Linked DNA regions of Homo sapiens: region 2 is linked to region 1. Evidence: fine-mapped expression QTL. A gene starts in region 1. The other region holds a variant in brackets. All regions are shown on one strand. Distances are between the middles of the regions. Region 1 holds the start of LINC03140 (long intergenic non-protein coding RNA 3140). Region 2 has its middle 31 kb from the start of LINC03140.

The links. PIP is the estimated chance that this variant, and not a neighbour inherited with it, causes the effect. A credible set is the group of variants that fine-mapping cannot tell apart.
Region 2: its variant is the best candidate, but not a certain one, in a credible set for the expression of LINC03140 in adrenal gland (GTEx, PIP 0.79).

Annotation. Positions count from the first base shown.
Region 1 is chr4:128,568,129-128,573,513 of GRCh38, forward strand. It overlaps LINC03140 (long intergenic non-protein coding RNA 3140), which reads right to left and starts at 2,415. Exons shown (of 2, transcript XR_007058268.1): 1 at 2,097-2,415; 2 at 1-1,159.
Region 2 is chr4:128,598,881-128,604,265 of GRCh38, forward strand. No RefSeq gene overlaps it. Among named protein-coding and RNA genes, the nearest start is that of LINC03140, 31 kb to the left of the region's middle. The variant G/A (reference allele first, on the strand shown) is at 2,483.

The sequences.
Region 1 (5,385 bases):
ACATTCCCGTCTCTTCTTCTTTGTGTCTTCTTCTGTCTTAGACACTCATTATTGGCTTTAGGCCCTATCTAGAAAATCCAGGATGATCTCATCTCAGGATGCTTAACTTAATTATATCTGCAAAACCCCCTTTTCCCAAATAATGTCACATTCACAGATTCTGAGTTTGGAACATAGATATATCTTTTGGAGGGTTCACCATTCAACCTACTGCCGATACCTCTGAAATTCTCACAAAGTCTGAAATCATCCATCATTATCTCAAAATTGAACTTCAAAAAGTTTTCTTCAGTTATTCAGGATTACACGTTTCGTAAGTGACAGAGCTGATTTAAATGCGGGATTGTCTGGTTTCAAAGATGTTGTTCTTTCTACTGTATGATACTAAAAACGACAACAATAATCAATGATCTTAGCTGGCATGTCCTGGATGCCTATGGATCAGGCACTATGCTGGTATTAAAAGTATTATTTCTAAAGTTTCTAATAATCCTACAGTAACGTCTTCTTATTCACAATTTATAGATGAGGAAACAGAGAGGCTCAGATGAGTTAAAAAGGCTCAAGGTCATACATATAATAAGCAGGAATTTGAAATCAAAGGGAAACCAAGTCAGATGACTTTAGAAAAATCTTCAAAGCACTGAGGAAACTGACAGATAGTAGGTTAGCAGCATTACTTTGGGCAGATGAAGAATTGGAAATGTCTCTTCGAAGGGCATTAAAAATTCCTGAAACATTTGGGATCAATTTAACCCTACCTGGTGCAGTGTGTTATGGGGCGATTTCCACACTGTAAGGGAAGCAGAGATTTGGGGCATTTGCATTTTTTTCTTTTTCCAGCCCTCAAGCCATTCTCTGTTGTCAGATCCAGTCCATGCCTTGACTTTGCCCATTTATAGAGGACTGTTTTGATGCTACAGAAAGCACGATCACTCTACTTTGAAAAGCATTTAAGCATTTTCAGAGCTCAGTCTCATTTCATTTTGCTCTTAGAACAGTCCCTGAGGTTGGTAGGGTGAGTATCATTATCCTCATTTACAGTCCAGGAGCCTGAGTTTCGAAGTGAGTTGTTACTATTTGCTTCACACAGAGGCAGAAGCAACTTGAAGCCTGACTATTTGAATGCAATTCTAATTCTTTTTCCAGAGCACCAAGCCTGTTTTAGATTAAGAAAAAAATTCCAAGAAAAAAAGGAAAAAATTGGCTACCATTAGCTTTAGGTAGGTAACACACACACATATTCTCTCTCTCTGTCTCTCTCTCTCTCCTGCTCTTTCTTTCTGTCTCTCTCTCTCTCTCTCTCACACACACACACACACACACACACACACACACACACAAAGTGATAAAAAGGTCTCCTTTCTCTTTTCAGTCTTGAGAATAAATGACTGCATTTCCCCACTGGTACTCAGAAGTGATTTGCAATTGAGAATTCTTTTTTAAGGGCAGAGGGCTCTTTTGTATGACCTTATTTTCCTTGTAGTTCCAAACAAGTGGGCTAAGCATGCTCTATTATGTCCAGACTGGTGTTTATAGTCTCATCTTCAGATGATAGATGTTACTTTATAATGCTAAACCTGATATTACACAATTCTCAACCCCTCTTCCAAAGACTGGGCTGCGTATGCCAAAACTTTATGATGACAAATCATAGAATTGGAAGGAAAGAAATGTGATACTCAAACTCTACTAACTCAGATAATATACAGAAATATCTGTAAGCCAGTGGTACTCAGTCTTCATTGTTGAGAGGGAGGCGATTTTCTAAATAATGTTACAGAGAAAAGAATTTAACCCAAGAGCATGATAGCCCACCAAAAGAATTCTTCTCTGACTGAAGTATGAAGGGTCCTTCTTTTCTCTTGAATCATTATCTCAACACAAATCTTCTGTGCCTCCTTAGACACTGTGGCCACTGTCCACTTCTAGGACCTTCAACTACTCAACCACCATACCTGCCCAACACAGTTCAACTGGCTGGGACTAATCAGGGACTTACCTTAGAAGTCCCCTTAACTCTCCACCCCTCAACCACACACACACACACACACACACACACACACACACACACTGCCAAGCCACCTAGTACTCACCTAGAGGTTCTGGCTCTTCCCCTCATTTCCAGGCTTGGATGAAACAGGAACACTATACATACATCAGGTTTGGGGTTTGGGGTCCCATGTAGTTGGAGCAGTCATATGATATAAACTTGGAAATGTGAAGGAGTTAATTCCTAGTGGGACAAGTTTTGACCAATGAAAAACAGGCAATGGGAGGTAGGTGGGAAGATAAACTTCTCCTTTATTCTTCCCAGAGAATGCTAGAGGCATGGTCCCTCCCTGCATCCACTGCAAGATGTCCCACATGCCAAGGGAACAGACCTGCTGAGCCTCCCATGCCTCATCAGCCAATGGCTCATCCCGAAGCAGAAGCCAGTTGTGCAAGGCATGACTGTGCATTGTTTCCTATACTCACTTCCCTTTTTTCCTTTTTCTGCAGCTTCCCTGGCCTGGGCTTGTGCTTCCCAAATAAAATGTCAGTACTTTAATCCTTGCTTCAGGCTTTTTTTTTTTTTTCCGCTAGAAAACTAAATGAGAGCACGCCTGATGGGTTGGTGTCCTCACTTCCAGTCACCGCCCCCTTTCCAATGGAATCCGACACTGAAGCATAAGTTGAATGTGGCATTTCCCTTCAGCGGGCTCCCACTGTCTGTAAAATAGAGTCCATACTCTATCATCTGGTGTTAATAGCCCTCTAGATTTGGTCTCAAAGTAATTTTCTGATTTTAGTTCAGTGATTTTTTAAATTCATATACCATGTTCTCTAACTAAACTGAACTACTTGAACCTTTTTTTATTACCCCATGTTTTCTGACCTCCATGCCCTTAATTATGCTCTTTCCTCAATCTGAAATGTCTGCACTTACATCTCCTCTCTACATTTTAAATTCTGTCCATCAAGAGCAAGCTCAAATGTCATCTTCTCAGATTAATTACCAATTCCTTCCTCTCTGCTGCCAGCCCACAAAATTTAATAATCTATTTTTTTGGAACCCCCAAATCATCTTGTCTGTGCTTCTCTTGTGGTACTTCTTACTTTTTACCCTATGTTATAGTATTTTGCTGTATTTCTTCTCCCCAGTTAGACCATAAGCTCCTTGCAGGTACATCTGACTGATTCATCTTTGTTTCCCAGAGGCCTGGCATGGTAACTTGCACATAATTGGTGTTTAAGAAAATTTTATGAAACAAATAAACAGTGGTCAGGCACGGTACCTCATGTCTGTAATCTCAGCACTTTGGGAGGCTAAGGCAGGCAGATCATTTGAGTCCATGAGTTCGAGACCAGCCTGGGCAACATGGAGAAACTCTGTCTTTACACAAAATACAACAATTAGCCAGGCATGGTGGCGCATGCCTGTAGTCCCTGGTGCTTGGGAAGTTGAGGCAGGAGGATCATTTGAGCCCAGGCTGCAGAGGTTGCAGTGAGCCCAGATCGCACCATTGTACACCAGCCTGAGCGACAGAGTGAGACCCTATCTCAAAAGGAAAAAAGAAATAAACAGTGTGCTTTTATATAAAAGCCCAGGATTGTGGTTAAAAACTAATTAAATTAAATTAAATTAAGTATTTCTTATCTTAAACCCTAGATCCTTAGTTTTTCAGGGATATACAGGAAAAAAAAATGACCACAAGGATGCTTCTATTTGTAAGTTGAAAGGTCAGGAGATATTAATAGTTTGAATGCTGTGGCTTTCTGCCTGGGGCCATCAAACAGAACATGCTGTGCATTTTGCTGACCTTGGACAGTTGGCTAAGATGCAGTACTGAATGATCTAACTTCTTAAGAAGTGACTAATCTACAAGACTTCTGAATCATTGTTCCTTCCTGAAAATGGAGGAAAAGTTTGATAAAGAAAAATTCCAGTCTGAGAGGATTGTTACAGTTTTTTTACAACATTGTAAAGCCTAACAAACAACATAGCAAAAAAAAAAGTATATTCTATTTAAATTTATATTATTTATAGTCATTCTATATTAATCACTTCTAAGATAAATGAAATCTTCATGGAAACAGCAGGCAAAAACATTGGCTGATTATTTCTCTCGTATGAAATGCTAAACTATGAAATTCAAATATATTTGGAAAATTCAATCATATATTTATTTCTTAATAACAACTAATGAACTTATAGAGAAACTCATGTAAAAATTCAATAGCATTTGAAAGGTAAATAAACAGCACTAATGAGCTTTATTATAATACTTTCCCACTTATGATGTATGTTTGTGACTAACATCTGTTGGATAGTATTTGAGATTAGGAAAACTTATTTTATTAAAAAACAGGAAAATTTTACTTAATAAGTTAACATGGATGGGAAATCTATTTGTAAGAAGTTCCATTTGTGAAAAGGTATAAATATGTGGTCACACATAGTTATATTTTGTTGATAGAAATAGATTTTATTAGATCAATAGAATCAGGCAACAATGACGTGGTCAGCAAGACATTCTGAGAAGTAGCCATGATGAAGAGAAAGAAGTCATCAAGTTTTTCATCCTTACAACCACAAAAGAGAGAAGAATGGGGTTCAGTTGGGACAACAACAGAGGTCATATAGAAATGGCTGGGTTGGGGATCAAAGGACACGGTCAGCCTATGAACTCAGGAATTCCTTGGGTAGATCTCTATCTGTGGTTTGTCCTGAGGGCACCATCATGGCCAATATAAGTAAACCAGGTGTTTGTGGATCCATGTTGTCTCACCCGTCCTGTGTGTAAGTATCACTCACTGGCATGGAATACAGGAGGGCTATTCTTTACAGGGCTTTCGTGGGTTGGTTTCCAATGGGAATCACTGTGATAGTCACTACCCAGTGGTTCTCCTTGCTCCTTATTTCTGCTAAAAGGGGATGTGTTCTCTCAGAGAAGTCAGCAACTGACTAAACCAAGTGACCACAGTCTGGGGTAGGCTCACAAAGGCCCAGTTCTGATGAATGCCCCCATAAATAAAAGGGTTACACTTTTTGCTGGCATAATTCCAAGAACTTGTGCTTTATGGCTTCCTCTTAAACTAGTCAAAAGAAGCTGTTCCATGCTTTAATACCTATGTACTAAGCTGGTTTCCCAGCCACTGTTTTGCTTTTGTTTTTTCCCAGAAAACTCGGAGGCCCCAGAGTATATGTAACAGATTCAGTGCATCCTTGGAAGACCTTTTCTACCTTCCCGATTGTGACTTTTTTTCATAGCTTCTCTGCAGTGCTTACCATACAACCAAATTAGTTCACTGAATTGAGTATGCTCTGTGTGAGATGTGAGCAAAACAAAAGCTGCTGGGAACACAGTAAGTACAAAATAAGATGTGAAATCCTTCCACCCT
Region 2 (5,385 bases), 31 kb after region 1:
AAGAACAAGGGCAGACAGGCCTGGGAAAGTGAAAGAGGGGAGAGTTTTAGCTTGTAGTGTGGTAGTTGCCAGTCAGCTCCCTGTATAATAACATCAATGAGGATCATTGGATTTAGTGATGAGGAAATCACTGGTGGTTCTTCTTCAAGAGGGAGATTATGATAAAGTGGTACAGAGAGGAACTTGACATCAAGGCGTGGGTGAAAAATGAGAGGGTAGGGAGGAAATGCAGGAAAATGTATGCTATGCTTTAGCAGTAAAAGAAAAAGTCTCAGCCAGTAGCCTGAAGGCATAACAGAGCTGGAAACGATGTGTATAGGATTGGAGAGACCTAGACTAGAAGGAGCCAGTGAGAAAATAGAGACGATGTAGGAGACAGCTGGAGACGACCGTACCCTCCGAACCAGCTGCACCTGAGGAGGAGTCTTGTAAGCTGTTCTGTGGGACCGAGGATAGGACCTTTGCCTTTGGGGGAGGTGCCCCCTTCCCCTGGCCCTGCAGCTCTGGTTCCTACCTGTATCCCAAAACGTACTGAATCAAAATGTTCAGTTTACTCATCTGTCTCCTCCTGTGAGGAGATGCACTCCTCACCTCCTTTGATGGTGCACTCCTAAGGGCGGGAATCATGCCTTCTTGATCTCGACACTCCAGTATTTAGTTCAGGGTCTGGCACAGTCAATAGGGATAGTGAAACCTAACTACATAGGCCCACATAACCATGTGTTACATTGGCTGGAGTTCCCAGTAATTATACAGCCCCTTACCAATCCTCCCACCTCTCTCCCCACCTCGCAGATACCTGATATTGAGGTGACAGCTGCAAGAAGTCTGGGTGTAGTTCATTTACCTCCCCACCCCCATAATTGGGGAGAACAGGCCAGAATGTGTGGGAGCCTCACCTCGTGAATTGTATGAGGCACTAACTGAAAATAAAGCCAAGAGGCTGCAATCCTTTTCCTTCACAGCTTTCCTTACAGAGTCTCTCCCTGTCTTTCTACTTCTCTCTCTACTCTTCTCATTCCAGCTCATCTGTTTTGTTTTGTTTTCCGACTCTCCACTTCCTGTGTCCTATTTCCACTTTTGGAAGCCTGTTTTTAGACACAAGCCTTTCATTTGCCTTTACTCAAAGGTTTTCTGAAGACTCACTATCTCTAAGAAAATAACCTTGAACCATAATCTCACAATTGAGGTTGAGCCAACGTTTGTCACCACTCCCCATCTTACATGGGTCCAGTTCATACAGGACCTCAATACATAAGAGCTTCTGTAAAACAGTCAATCCTGGGGCCCTCAGTGTGGAGTGATAGGCTTTCGAGGAAAGTGTCAGAAATCACCAGAAGTCAAAGCTGTGTACCCAATTGTCCTGATTTTCCTCAATAAGTCAATAGCTTGCAAAGCTTTCCAATGAGAAACAAAGAAACTTTCTTCCCCCCACCCCTCCCCACCCCTGCTCATGCTTAAAAAATAGTTATTTTTCTTTTTCTGGAAAATCTTACTAGTAATCTCTTTAGGTTGCATCCCCTACTATTCCATCTGAACACACTGGCTTTCCACATGTTGCAGGATTGGGACAGCCTGGCAGTGACCCAGGAACACAAAGGGGCAAGTAAAGTGGGGTGCAATTTCATTACTGACCACTCTTCTCTAGGGGCCACTGCACACTTACCCTCCTCTGTGCTGCAGTTTGCAGAGCCTGAGGTCCAAGCAAAAGAAGCATTGTCTCACAGCTGTAAAGCATGAATTGTGTTTGTGGATTGCATTGCCCTGCTTCTTGCTCGTGCTTGTTCTTGTTTTCCTGGCACAAGTGCCTTTGCTCCTAGAATGGCCGCTTATCTCGGCTGACTGCTATTTGCTAACAATGGGCTCACTGGGTTGTTTTGAAAAGTCACATGAAGTTTATAATTCTGTCTGATGCTACCTTGGACTTATGTGTGCTAAATAAGCCTCAAACACCAAAACTGCCTTAAAACCTAAACTAAGCTCAACGAATGACTTCTTCTCAGGTATGCAGGCACCGGAAGGAACCCATACACCCTGCCCAGCTAATTCTACACCTCTTGTCTGTGTTGCTCTTCCACAGTACTGCTAGTTAGACCTTGCACTCTTCTCCATCTTGAGGCATTTGGTTCCCTCTACTTGCCCAGTGGCGCTCAGAATTTCTTGTGGAGCAGCTCAGGTGGTGAGGGAGGGAGGCACGGACACTGCCCCCCATGTCTCTGCAGGACGGTGGGGAACTGAGGGGTCCCTGACCAGCTGCCTCTCACGGCTTGATGTGTCACCTGATGGCTTCTCCCCTGGCTCGCACTGTGGGCCCACACTGTTTGCCAATCTGCCTTTCTTCCTGCCGGTGCTTTTGCTGGGGGAGAACCACAACCATCTCCAGTGCTGTTTTACAGCCTCCCACCACTCCACAGAGCCTCTGAAGAGCATACCTGAAGCCTTGATTCTGTCCACCTGATTCCCCTGAAGCTCACCAAAAAGG[G/A]AGCTGCTTGTTTATCCTGCTGTCAGCCATTTCCCATCAACGTCTGGCCCAGCGAGCTGTGTTGGGGCCAGCACTGCTTTAGTACCAATAGTCTGGCCCTCTTCCAGGTACTCATTGCTAGCGAATTCATCTTGCTCTTGAATGCGAAGTATGAGTCAGAGGTAATGCTGATGAAACCTCCGGCAGGTCAGGACAACAAGGGCAGACCCAAGCCACGGGGGGTGAGGTGGGGGGAGAGTGGGCCAGAACTCTGCTCTGCAGAGCTGTGGTTTGTCCTGAAGTCTGGTGCTGTGTTAGTGCAAACAACATCAAATGCAATTCAATTACAACTGTGTACTCATCACTGGGCCGGGCTGTCAGAGGCACAGAAGTATACGTTAGTTTCTGTAGGAGTTATGGCCAGCAGCCCAGCTTCTTAACTGGATTTAGTTTGAAAATAAATGCCTCACTGGACAGTGACACTTCTCAACTCTTTCAGGGAAGAAAATTTTTGCTTCTGGTAGGCTGATGTGTGACTTTAATAATCTTATCATTAGTCCTGAGTCGGGGGCTTGTCATTCAAAGTTGTCTTTCATCTTTTGTGTATGTTGTTTTCAGACAGTGGCAGCTGAAGAATGACTGTATCAGGGACATTCAATGATGCCCATATTTTGAGAGGTTAAATTTCCTAGAAACCAGCTTCTAGTCTTTGTGTGTCCTGGCTTGTGCTCTTTAAAGAGACTGAAAAAAGCATGTTCTACAAAATCCTGTCTTGCTCCATGGTAATGAGGTCAGACAGACCTCCCCAGGAGCCTGACTGGAGCTACTATACAACTGTGGGGTGGCCTTGGAAACTTGGAGACATTTGGGGCGTGCTGAGTCACTGCTGCAGCTCAGGCCCAGGGCTCCTGTCACCACTTTGGGGAGCTGGTGGTACAATAGAGATATCACTGTGGTGGGGCCTGGAATGAGGGCCTGTCATGGGACAGGGCACTGTAAAGAGAACAGTAAGTAGTTTTTAGTTATTTCTTATTAGAAGGAATTTCCTAATGGAAAATGCTCCTCCATTAATAGGATTTTCTCTGTACAGAAATTTATTGCTTATGACTATTGGGGTCAATTCCCATTGGCATCTGAGAGCTGGAAAATGACAGCTGTCATCACAAGTTTTCTGAGAAAAAAGTATGTTTTTTTCCTATGTTGGTCAGAAGCCAACCAATTCATTGCCAACCAATAAAGGTACAGCCAAAGGGAAAAAGAATTATTAAGAGTTTTAATTGCCCCTGAAATTCCAGATAGAAAATTTTACATTCAGTTACACCTGATGTAGCAGAAAACTCCAAGGGACTATCTAAGTTCTTTGGCCAAACCAGATTTGGTTTATTTAACATTGTCTAGAATGGATCATTGGCTGGGACTTGTACATATGTTTGTTATATGGGGATTTTCTCAGTTAAACTCAGATGGAAACTAAGACGAAACATATATATATGTGTATTTATGTCTATTTATATTTATATGAGTCTGGTGTATTAATCATAGGGTACTAAATTATTTTCAAAGACACAAACTATGTGAGGGTGTATTTTAACTAGCATGTGAAATGCAAAAATATTTTCTGGGTATGCTGGCACTTTATACCAAAAGGATGCAAAATTTAGCGTAAGAAAATAGTAAATTAGTAAACTAAGTGAGGTGAAAAATGTTGATCAGCTACAGAAAAAGGTCAGCAGTTCAAACTGTGGAATCTGGGTTATTTCTTTTTCACTGCCCAAGATTGTTATATACTCAGAGTTTTCCCCACATTATAAAGCATTGATAACTTTTCAATTTGTTACTACCCACTGGAGTATAATGTAAATTCTTGTGTGTGTTTTAATAATTCCTTGGAAACCATCCCTTGAATTGCTATTCATAGGATAAGAAGGAATTACTTGCTATGCTCCACATGTTTTTCATTAGGACTAAGATCAAGAAAATACATACATATCTATATATGTATGTGTGTGTGTGTGTGTGTATGTATGTGCACACACACACCAAGGGCTGGAAGATTTCTGGATCAGTTCAGATTTTGATAAGAGGAGACAGAAGAAGAATAGAGAAATGTAGGATGAAGGCCGGGCATGATGGCTCACGCCTGTAATCCCAGCACTTTGGGAGGCCAAGGTGGGCAGATCACTTGAGGCAGGAGTTTGAGACCAGCCTGACCAACATGGTAAAACCCCATCAATACTAAGAATACAAAAATTAGCCAGGTGTGGTGGCATGGGCATGGTGGCATAGTCCCAGCTACTTGGGAAGCTGAGGCAGGATAGTTGTTTGAACCCAGGAGGCGGAGGCTGCAGTGAGCCAAAATCACACCGCTGCACTCCATTCTGGGTGACAGAGTCTAAAAAAAAAAAAAATATGTAGGATGATAGTGGCAGTGGTGGTGGAAGCCACACCTGATATCGCAACAGCAGACTGCTTCATGGGATGGCATGCAGAGGTAGTCTTTGATTTTAGTTTATATCTGGAAGAAGAATTTTACACACTTTCAAATAGAAGGCAGCATTCACCAATCCAGTGCTGGGGTTAGCAAAAAGAGATCTGATCCTTTGTCTTTTCCGTCTAAGACTATAAGTTGATTCATTCGTTCTTTCAACAAATATTTATTGAGTACCCATTATGCCATAATAGTCTTAGAAATAGCCTGAGCATGGTGGCTCACATTTGTAATCCCAACACTTTAGGAGACCAGGCAGGAGGATGGCTTCAGCCCAGGAGTTTGAGGCCAGACCAGGCAACATGGCAGTGCACACCTGTAGTCCCAACTACTCAGGAAGCAGAGGCAGGAAGACTGCTTGAGCCCAGGACTTCAAGGCAGAGGTGAGCTATGATTGTACCACTGCATTCCAGCCTGGGCAACAGAACAAGACCCT